2 separate regions of the Homo sapiens genome follow, and region 1 is linked to region 2. Evidence: fine-mapped expression QTL. A gene starts in region 2. The other region holds a variant in brackets. All regions are shown on one strand. Distances are from middle to middle.

Region 1 (4,385 bases), 32 kb after region 2:
CTTTGTGATCAATAGCACTATTTTTATTTGGATTGCTAGCCATAGGAAGCTACGGCCACAAAATTTAGAGAGCCCTGCAGAGGGCCTGTAAAACCCTGTTGTAACTCTCATGTCAGGCCGGGAATAACGGCTGATTTAAAGGCTTTGGCTGGTGCAGTGAGGCGGGGTTTCCATCAGTGTATGCCCAGGAGAGGGGATTACATCTGCCTGGCGTCCAGACCCCAGGTGGAGTGAAGCCGTTTATAACACAATTTGGCTGCAGTTGAATTTTAATCTTGGGATCCACCGATTGCTTTAAGGGCGAGCTCGAGAAGCCGCCATTTGTTTTTGATAGCTTTACCCAGAGACTAAAGAAATCCCTCCCCCCACAGTTGTTCTGTTAGGGGTTGTGTCTGTGGAAGGGAATTGAAAGAGAAGATTTGGTAAATAGGAGCCATGGACTGTCGTGCTTTCTGGATGAACTGTGTGGACACTGGCTTTCTGATAATCATCGTAGCTAATATTCACTGGGTGCTAATGAGACGTGAGGATGCTGCTAAGCACATTTCACATCATGTTTATCTTCTTAATTGTTTATTTTATTTTATTATTTTTTTTGAGACAGACTCTCACTCTGTTGCCCAGGCTGGAGTGCGGTGGTGCAATCACCACTCACTGCAGCCTCTGCCTTTGAAAGGGCTCAAGCAATCTTCCCACCTCAGCCTCCCGGGTAGCTGGGACCACAGGCACATGCCACCACGCCTGGCTAAATTCTTTTGTATTTTTTGTAGTTTTGTAGAGATGTGGTCTCCCCATGTTGCCCAGGCTGGTCTTGAACTCCTAGGCTCAAGCAAGCCACCCACCTTGGCCTTCCAAAGTGCTGGGATTATAGGCCTGAGCTACCATGCCCAGCCACATCATGTTTATTTAAAAACAAACAAACAAACAAAAACAAAACCCAACTCACAACAACCTGTGAGAGACTATCTCAGGCCCATCTTCTGGACCCGCACTGGCCAATATGGTCACCATTCGTTACTGCGTTTGAAATGTGGCCAGTCCATACAGAGACAAGTTGTAAATGTCAAACATTCACCAGATTTCAGACTTGAGGTGAAAAAAAAAAGTGTTAAGTACTCAATAACTTTTATATTGATTACATGCTGGGATTTGGGTGATATAAAATGTATAACGAAAATTGTATTCTTTTGATTGTGTACCCATTTGTTTTTACTTTTTGAAAATGTGGCTAGGAAATAAAAAATTATGGATGTGATTCACATCATACTTCTAAGGCACTGATCTTAGAAGAAGAAAAGACACACAGACCTGTAATCCCAGCACTCTGGGAGGCCAAAGTGGGCGGATCACCTGAGGTCAGGAGTTTGAGACCAGCCTGGACAACATGATGAAACCCCATCTCTACTAAAAAGGCAAAAATTAGCGGGCGTGGTGGCATGCTACTTAGGAGGCTGAGTCAGGAGAATTGCTTGAACCTGGGAGGCGGAGGTTGCAGTGAGCCAAGATCACGTCACTGCACTCCAGCGTGGGTGACAGAGTGAGACTCAGTTAAAAAAAAAAAAAAAGAAAGAAAGAAAGAAAGAAAAAGAGGCCCAGAGACTAAAGGATCATGCCCAAGGCCGCCCAGCATGCAAGTGTCCGGGCCTTTTAGATGCTAACAACATGACCCCAGAATGGGCACTTGTGCATGAGTCAGTTTCTCAGTCAGCTTTTTGTCGTC[A/G]GCCCCACATCCTGCAGACCTTGGCTGAATTTGTAGCCCCTCCGGTCTCAGTTTTCCCAGCTCGGTCATCAGAGGCTGGAGTTGAATGATCTTTGTGGCTTTTTTGCGGACAATGGCGTTCTCAATTTTGTACTCTTTGGCACAGAGTGGTGTAATGTGGAGAGGGGAGCATCAGTCTCTCTCTTAATGCTTATTTAATTATATTTAATTAGGAATCTCGTTGCAATTGGTCTCCTGGGGCCATCTGCTGTGGAGATTTTTGAAGAATCCAAATTTTATTTCTTGCCATCGATCCATGTGGTTAATGGGCCTGAGGAGGAATGATGTCATCTGTCCTTCTAACTTAGCACAAGAGGCAGGAGGAGAAATTGAGCAAAATCAGGCTGAGCGCCCGAGAAGGCCACCCTTTGGAGAGCCAGGGCGGGCCTGGCTCATTCCTTCAGGTTCTCAACTGTAGTGCCCACGGTGTGCCCCAGCTTGCTCTGCCCTGTGCCAGGATTTTGGGGACAGCTGGGTTCTGGCATCATCTGTGCCCTTGTTAACATGGTACCCTAAAATTGATGCTTGCCCTGATGGTAAAATGGTGGTCTGCATGTGATCGGCACCAATCTGTGACGTCCAGGGTTCTTGAGTCAGCCACGTATTCCCTGGGTTGCCTTCAAGATGACCTGAGTGGACTCACTGCCTATTCTTTTCCCTCTAGGTGGAATAGGATTCTTACAGGAGTAGGGTGATAAGAGAAGGGGGCTCTCCTTCATTGCTGCCATCGGGCTCCTTGGTGGAAAACTGGGGCAGGATTCAAAGCAAGGCTGACATGACCTGTACTTCCCCAGAAAGGAGCCGCTGGAGGCCTGGCTAGGGCCAGCTCTCCAGCCCCGGCAGCTGCCCCCCACCCACCCCCACCGGGCATTTAATCAGTGTAACTGATTAGTTGAAACACACCACAGGCTGGGAGCCTGCGACCCTGGCTGACGTCCGGGGCTGTTGTTTATGGCTGGGTGATTTGAGGCAAGCCTCCCGACCCCGCTGAGCCTCGGATCCCTCAGTTACAAAATGAGACTTATCATATCTGCCCCCCTCCCTCCCCAAGTTGTTGAGAGGCTCCAACAATGTAGAGAGGCTGATATGAAATGTGGGTAAACAGGAGAGTGGTATTTAAATGTACGCTCTTACCATAATTGCCTTGTATTGTGTGTGTATCTTATCTCCCCAATTAGATGCGAGATCCTTGGTGACAGCCACCATGTCTCCCCCCTTTTGATATTCCCCACGCAGCCGGGATGATGCTGAACATATGGCTGCTGCTCAATAAATATGTTCTGAATTGTACTGAATTTCATTTTGGTTCCAAATCACCCTAAAAACTTGATCAGGTGCAGCCCAAAGGAGCAGGCTGGATGACGGAGGCTCCCCAGCCTGGCTCTGTGGCCGTTATGGGAAAATATCTGTGGAATGAATGAATAGATGAATGAATGAATGAATGCCTCGTGGTGTTTGCTTTACTCTTCCTGCTCCCAGCTTTGACACTGGCTGTGAAATCTGCCTCCTGTGCTCAAAATGACTTCTCCCTCTCCTCCTTCGGGATACGCTTTCTGCATCCTGCCTCGCTGTAGCTCAGATTTCTATTAAGTAGTCAAACATAATATAAAATTGCCAACAAAAAGATCATTCCTGGATTAATCTCCCCCTTTACATAGGGAAAGACATAAAAGAGAGCATAAGATAAGAAAAGGAAATGAAATTAATCTTATACTTTCTATGGCTGCCTGTTAATTTCAAGCTTTCCTGCATCCAGGTGCCTGTGTTCCTGCTCGGTTTCTGGATTGCTTGGTACTTAAATGAAACATCTTATTAATCATTTCCCGGGAATGCTGTGCAGGCAAAAGGAAAACAAAGGCATTCAGGAGCCACAGTAAGTTTATTTTTATAGTAATGCATACCTTATCATCAAGCATGGCCAAGACATCAAAATGCTAAGCCACATTTGTATACGATCTCACACTGCTATTGATAAATCACGTTAACAGTAAGCTGCTGGATCAATTCTGCCCTGACACCAACCTCTCCACGAAATAGAGATTCGAGAATAAATGTGAAGGTAACCAGGGAATAAAACTGTTTGAGAAGTTTCACAAAAGAAGCTGAACTCTGCTAATCAGAAAGTAGATCCATCTTTAATTCCGAAATGACCGCACAGCAATTCAGCAGTCCAGAGGACAGGCAGAGTTTCTCAGCCCCGGGGTGGAATGGATGGCTTCCTATCTCTGTCCTGCCAAGGCTGCGTTCTCACATCTTCCAAAATGTCCATTAACCCCAGCTGGCCCCTCACCCCACCAAGATGATGTAAATATAATGATTAACCAATCCACACTAGCATTAAGATTTCTTGAAACTCCTCTTCACTGAAAAATGCATTAGCTCCTGGCAGTACTGTCCAGAAATTAATTCACAGACAACCGAGCATCATTACCCATGGTCTGCCCTGGCTAACTGCTCTCTCTGTTAGTGAATTTGGGAATGGAAATGAGCTATTTCCATCCACTTTATCATCCAGAGACCTTAGTACATAGTGTATCTCTGGTAAGTGCTGTTATTGTAACCTGTTTCTAGAATTGCTATTACCAGTAATTCTGCAGAAACAGGGTCCCACCCAAAGCCATCAGCA
Region 2 (4,385 bases):
GCCAGCGGTGAAAAGAGCTTTTCAAAGAAGCGTTCAGTGGAAAATAGTGCCCGGTGTAGAGCTGGGAGCTGCAGTGGCAGGCTGAACGGCACCCTCCCCCTTTCTGGTGGCTGTGTCTGAATTGAGGGCAGGCTGCCCCCCTCTCTCGTCAGGCCCCCGGGCACTCTTGGCTTCTCTGCTGTTGAATCTGTCTGATTTGCTGTGGTGAAAGGTCACCGAGGAGCTGGGCAGCAAGACTCCCCAAGAGCCAGCCACGGCTCTACACTCACAGTGATTTCATTGGCATGACGGGAAGCTCCGGCCTGCCAAAGACAACAGCCATGTGCTGTGACTGAGACTGCAGGTTCCTGGGGCATGTGTCCCACCACTCTAGACTGTTCCATTCCCACTGGGTGCAACGGCCTGGAGGAGGCGGATGAGAGCAGATGGACACCCGGTTTCCCCATCCTGTCCTCCCTATCTCAGCACCCAGCAGAGGCGCGCTTCCACAGCTGGCCCCCTTGTCACCCTTTCCAGTTTGCATTTTCCTGCCCTTTCGAAAGAACCAGCAGGGGTGAGGTGGTCTATTTTCATGCTGATGATCAACTAACTCTGTGGCCAAGGACAGCTGTGTCACCTCTCGCTCCCAGACTGGCAGGGGAAGCGGCCCCTGGATGAATGTCCCTTTCGACAGGTGAATCTGCAACTCTTCAAACTGCGGAGGCACCCTCCCCTGACCCTCCTTCAGACCCCTGCCAGTTCTTCTCAAAACAGCTTGTTTAGAAATTTGGGGGCTGGGAAGAAAAGACTGTGATTGAAGAGCTCCTCGAGGTGACTTAGACTTTGCTCCTTGCCTATACATGGAGCAGAGCGTGCTCTGTGGGACCGCGCAGCCCCTCTTCACCCCGGGGTTCTCGGCTGCCATTCCCTGAACATGAGCTCAGTGCCAGGCAGCAAGTGGAGTGATCCTCCTGCACGTGCTCTCGTAATCTTCACAATCATCCCAGACGGAGGAGGGGATTTTGTGAGCCCATTTGACAGGAAAGAAAGTCAAGGCTGAGAGAGCCGATGGCCATGCTTACCCAAAGCCAGACGGGTTGATATGATGTTGATCTGGGCTTCCCAGCCAGGTGGTCTAACTCCAGGGCCAGAATTCTCAGCCATTCATAATGTGAGGGTGCTTGGGGATGAGCCCCCAGCTGGGCACACTTCAACTGTGGTTACTGTCATTTTTGTCAGTGGTGACTGGGCCCCTGTGATGGCACACTCCAGTCAGCTGGCCTTTGTACAGTTTTGTCTACCCTACTCCCCACCCCCACGAAGAGCCACCAGGGAACCCCTTAGTCCTGGAGAAGGCATTGACTACTCTACCAGGGGTTCCTGAAGCCCCTTGGTCCCCTTTGTCAGGCCTGCTGGGCACAACTCGAGCCTGGGGTCACTGCGCGCTCCCTAGCTTCTCCCCGAGTCCTGCTGCAGGAAGAAGCCCCGACCCCGCACAGGTCAGGATTCCGTGGGCAAAAACAACCCCAGTAACCTTGGTCTGAATAGCCGGGCTTGTCCCGCACCATGGGGGTCTCAGTGGGCCTGGGATCCTCCTGCATCTTCTTGGAGGCCCCGGTCCCACTGGGCCCGGCACAAAGGGCAGCTCTGGGTACCTACAGGCCAGGCCCCGACTGGCGCAGAGAGTGCAGCGGCTCTCATATTGCGAGGTGACGCGACTCCCTCCCGCAGGCCCCAGGAAGCTCCTGGAGGCGCGCAGGTGCCGGCCAGGTGAGACTGGAGAAAGGCGCGCAGGGCGCAGCATAGCAGCCGCGTGGGCCGACCCAGGGCCGTAGTCCCCAAGGGCCCTTAGGGGACATTAGACGGCGAGCTCCCTCCCTTCCGAGCTCAGCCAGTTTGCCGGGTGGGGGAGGGTGGCACCTACCTCCCAAAAGCACCAGGACGCAAGCGTAGGGGAGCATGGCTGCGGGCATCCCGTCGGGGCTGGCAGGACCGCCCGCCGGGCGCTGCCACGGTGCGCAAGGGGAGGCGCGGGCGCAGGGCTCTCGGACGGCTGCGGGCGCCGGCGGCCAGGCTGGAGTCCTGCGAAGAAGTTGCGAGGGTCCTGCGCCCCCCTCGGCGCTCACACGCGCTCAGCCTTCCCGGCTGTTGATAGTTGTAAGCGGAGCTGCGCACTCATAGGTCCAACTTGCCAGAAGAGGTGGAGACAGCCCCCGGCGAGGCGCGCACACCCGCGCAGCGCGCACAGCCCCCTGGTGCAGCTCCTGCCATTCAGACCCCCAGCCCTCCCCCAGATGTCCGTCCCCTGGCCGTCGCCTTCCCCAAAGTCTTCGCAGTGGGCAAGGAGGCCTCCCCCAAGCTCTGGTCCCGGCCAAGGCAGAGCGATGCGCTCCTTGCGTCAAAGCGCACCCCTAGCCAGGCCGTTCCCTGGAAGGGCAAGCGGGGCGGGGAGTTCCTCTAAGCCCCGCCAGTCCTGGGACCCCTGAAGTTTCTATTCAGGTCTTCCAGCTACTCCTGGAAAAGTCGCGTCAACTTGGATCCCAGCAAACCCAGAAGCGCAGTGAAAGTGGCCAACCCGGTCGCCTAGAAGCCAGCCCCGGCCTCTGTCTGTAAATGAGGCCGTCACCCGCTCCCCACCACACCCAAACGCATCTAGGCAAAGTGTGGACCCGACCAGGCGGGTTTTCCTCCTTCTCGCAACTCCTCCTCCTGCCCCCCTCCCTCCCAAATCTCATCTGAGTGAGTCAGCTGAGGGTGGCAGCTCAGAAGCGAGGCAGCCGTGAGGCGGAGGACAGGCTGGGGGATCCCAAAGGGTGCGCTCCAGCCCCCAACCCAGGCACTGGGACTCTGGTGGCACCCTGGGTGGCAGGCAAGCCTTGAAATCAAGTGCACGAGCCTTGGAAAGGAGGACCGGGAGAGTTATGGCATTTATGAATGAAGAAGAGAAAGAGAATCACTCGGATGGGAAAAGTTAACTGGATTGTTCCCACCTGCATGGATCACCGGGTAACTGCAGTGGGACCGAGGGGGCGAGGCTGCGGGCTGGGGATGTGCGGGTTTCCTTGTGTTGCCACGAACCCAGAGAGGGAGAGGAAGAAGATGGAAAGAAAAAGGAAAAAGGGAAAGAAAGTAAGAGGGGAGAGAGGGGAAAACTGAGGATGAAGAGAGACAGAGAAGAGAGACCTGAGAGAGGGAGAGAAAGAAAGAGACAGAAAGAGAAATGAAAGTGAGGAAAGGGGAAACAGGCAGAGAAAGAGAGAGAAAGGGGAGGAAAGAGAAAGGGAAAAGAAAGGAGGGAGTGAAATCAACAGAAAAAAGAGAACCAGGAAGGAGGAGGGAGGGGGAGAGAGAAGAGAGAAGAGAGAGAAGAGAGAACAAGAGAGAAGAGAGAAGAAGAGAGAAGACAGAGATGCGGTCTCCCTGGGGAAAGGTTTGGAGAACTGGGCCAGGCCTGTTTCCCGGGACTCACGAGTGAGCAGTCCACCTGCCCCTCTGAAGCATTTTATAGACTCATTTGTCCCACTTTTGTGGGCTGATCATCCCACAGGGGAACAGGGGACACCACCTCACCTTTTGATTTCTTACCAGAAACTTGGGCGAGGCTTCCAGGAGCCACAAGAGCCCTTCAATCCACCCAGGGACCCCCGATGTGGGCCCACCAGCCATCCTTAGCTTTCCTCCTCTCCAGAGGCAACAGGGAATAGGAAAAAGTCCAGAGCAAGGCCACACCATGATCTTAACGCAAATGGAAATGTGAGGAAAACGATCAATTTGCTTCCTGAAAATGACATTTTTTTTTTCTGGTTTCTATGAGACTCGAGGTGGCCTTGCTGAAACTGAAATCGGTATGAGCTTTCCCTGGCAGACAATGGCCATTGTCACATATTAAATTCTCATGAAAGGGATAACTTTGTGGGCAAGAGGAGAGTTGTGCAGGGTGATTATTTATACTTGCATAATTGTGATTATTTGTGGCAATTATGGGTCTTTCAATGTACAAAATTTACAATTATGGGTAGTTTAAAAACTACATGCTAAGGCCGGGTGCCGTGGCACACACCTGTAATCCCAGCTCTTTGGGAGAGCCAGACGGGTGGGTCACCTGAGGTCAGGAGTTTAAGAGCAGCCTGGCCAACATGGTGAAACCCCGGCTCTACTAAAAATACAAAAATTAGCTGGGCGTGGTGGCGGGCGTCAGTAATCCTAGCTACTCCAGAGGCTGAGGCAGGAGAATCACTTGAACCTGGGAGGCGGAGGTTGCAGTGAGCTGAGATCATGCCATTGCACTCCAGCCTGTGTGACAAGAGTGAAACTCCATCTCAAAAAAAAAAAAAAAAAAGTTAAAACTACATGCTATTCTGGCCATAATCATTTGAGACTTCAGTCTCTGGGCTTTCCGGATGTGG

Which allele goes with the higher level. Alleles are on the strand shown, and positions count from the first base shown. SD is a standard deviation of normalised expression in the study named.
For the expression in cartilage of the gene that starts at base 2,644 in region 2, allele G in region 1 goes with a lower level than allele A (large effect, 1.5 SD a copy in Steinberg 2020).

What was found. PIP is the estimated chance that this variant, and not a neighbour inherited with it, causes the effect.
Region 1: its variant is the best candidate, but not a certain one, in a credible set for the expression of APCDD1L in cartilage (Steinberg 2020, PIP 0.58).

The regions. Positions count from the first base shown.
Region 1 is chr20:58,544,297-58,548,681 of GRCh38, forward strand. APCDD1L-DT (APCDD1L divergent transcript) reads left to right here. Exons shown (of 7, transcript NR_034147.1): 6 at 3,516-3,632. Among named protein-coding and RNA genes, the nearest start is that of APCDD1L, 31 kb to the left of the region's middle. RefSeq lists an enhancer at 1,765-2,266. The variant A/G (reference allele first, on the strand shown) is at 1,721.
Region 2 is chr20:58,512,756-58,517,140 of GRCh38, forward strand. It overlaps APCDD1L (APC down-regulated 1 like), which reads right to left and starts at 2,644. Exons shown (of 4, transcript NM_153360.3): 1 at 1,904-2,644. The coding sequence starts at 1,952. It overlaps APCDD1L-DT (APCDD1L divergent transcript), which reads left to right and starts at 2,624. Exons shown (of 7, transcript NR_034147.1): 1 at 2,624-2,985. RefSeq lists an enhancer at 1,247-2,245.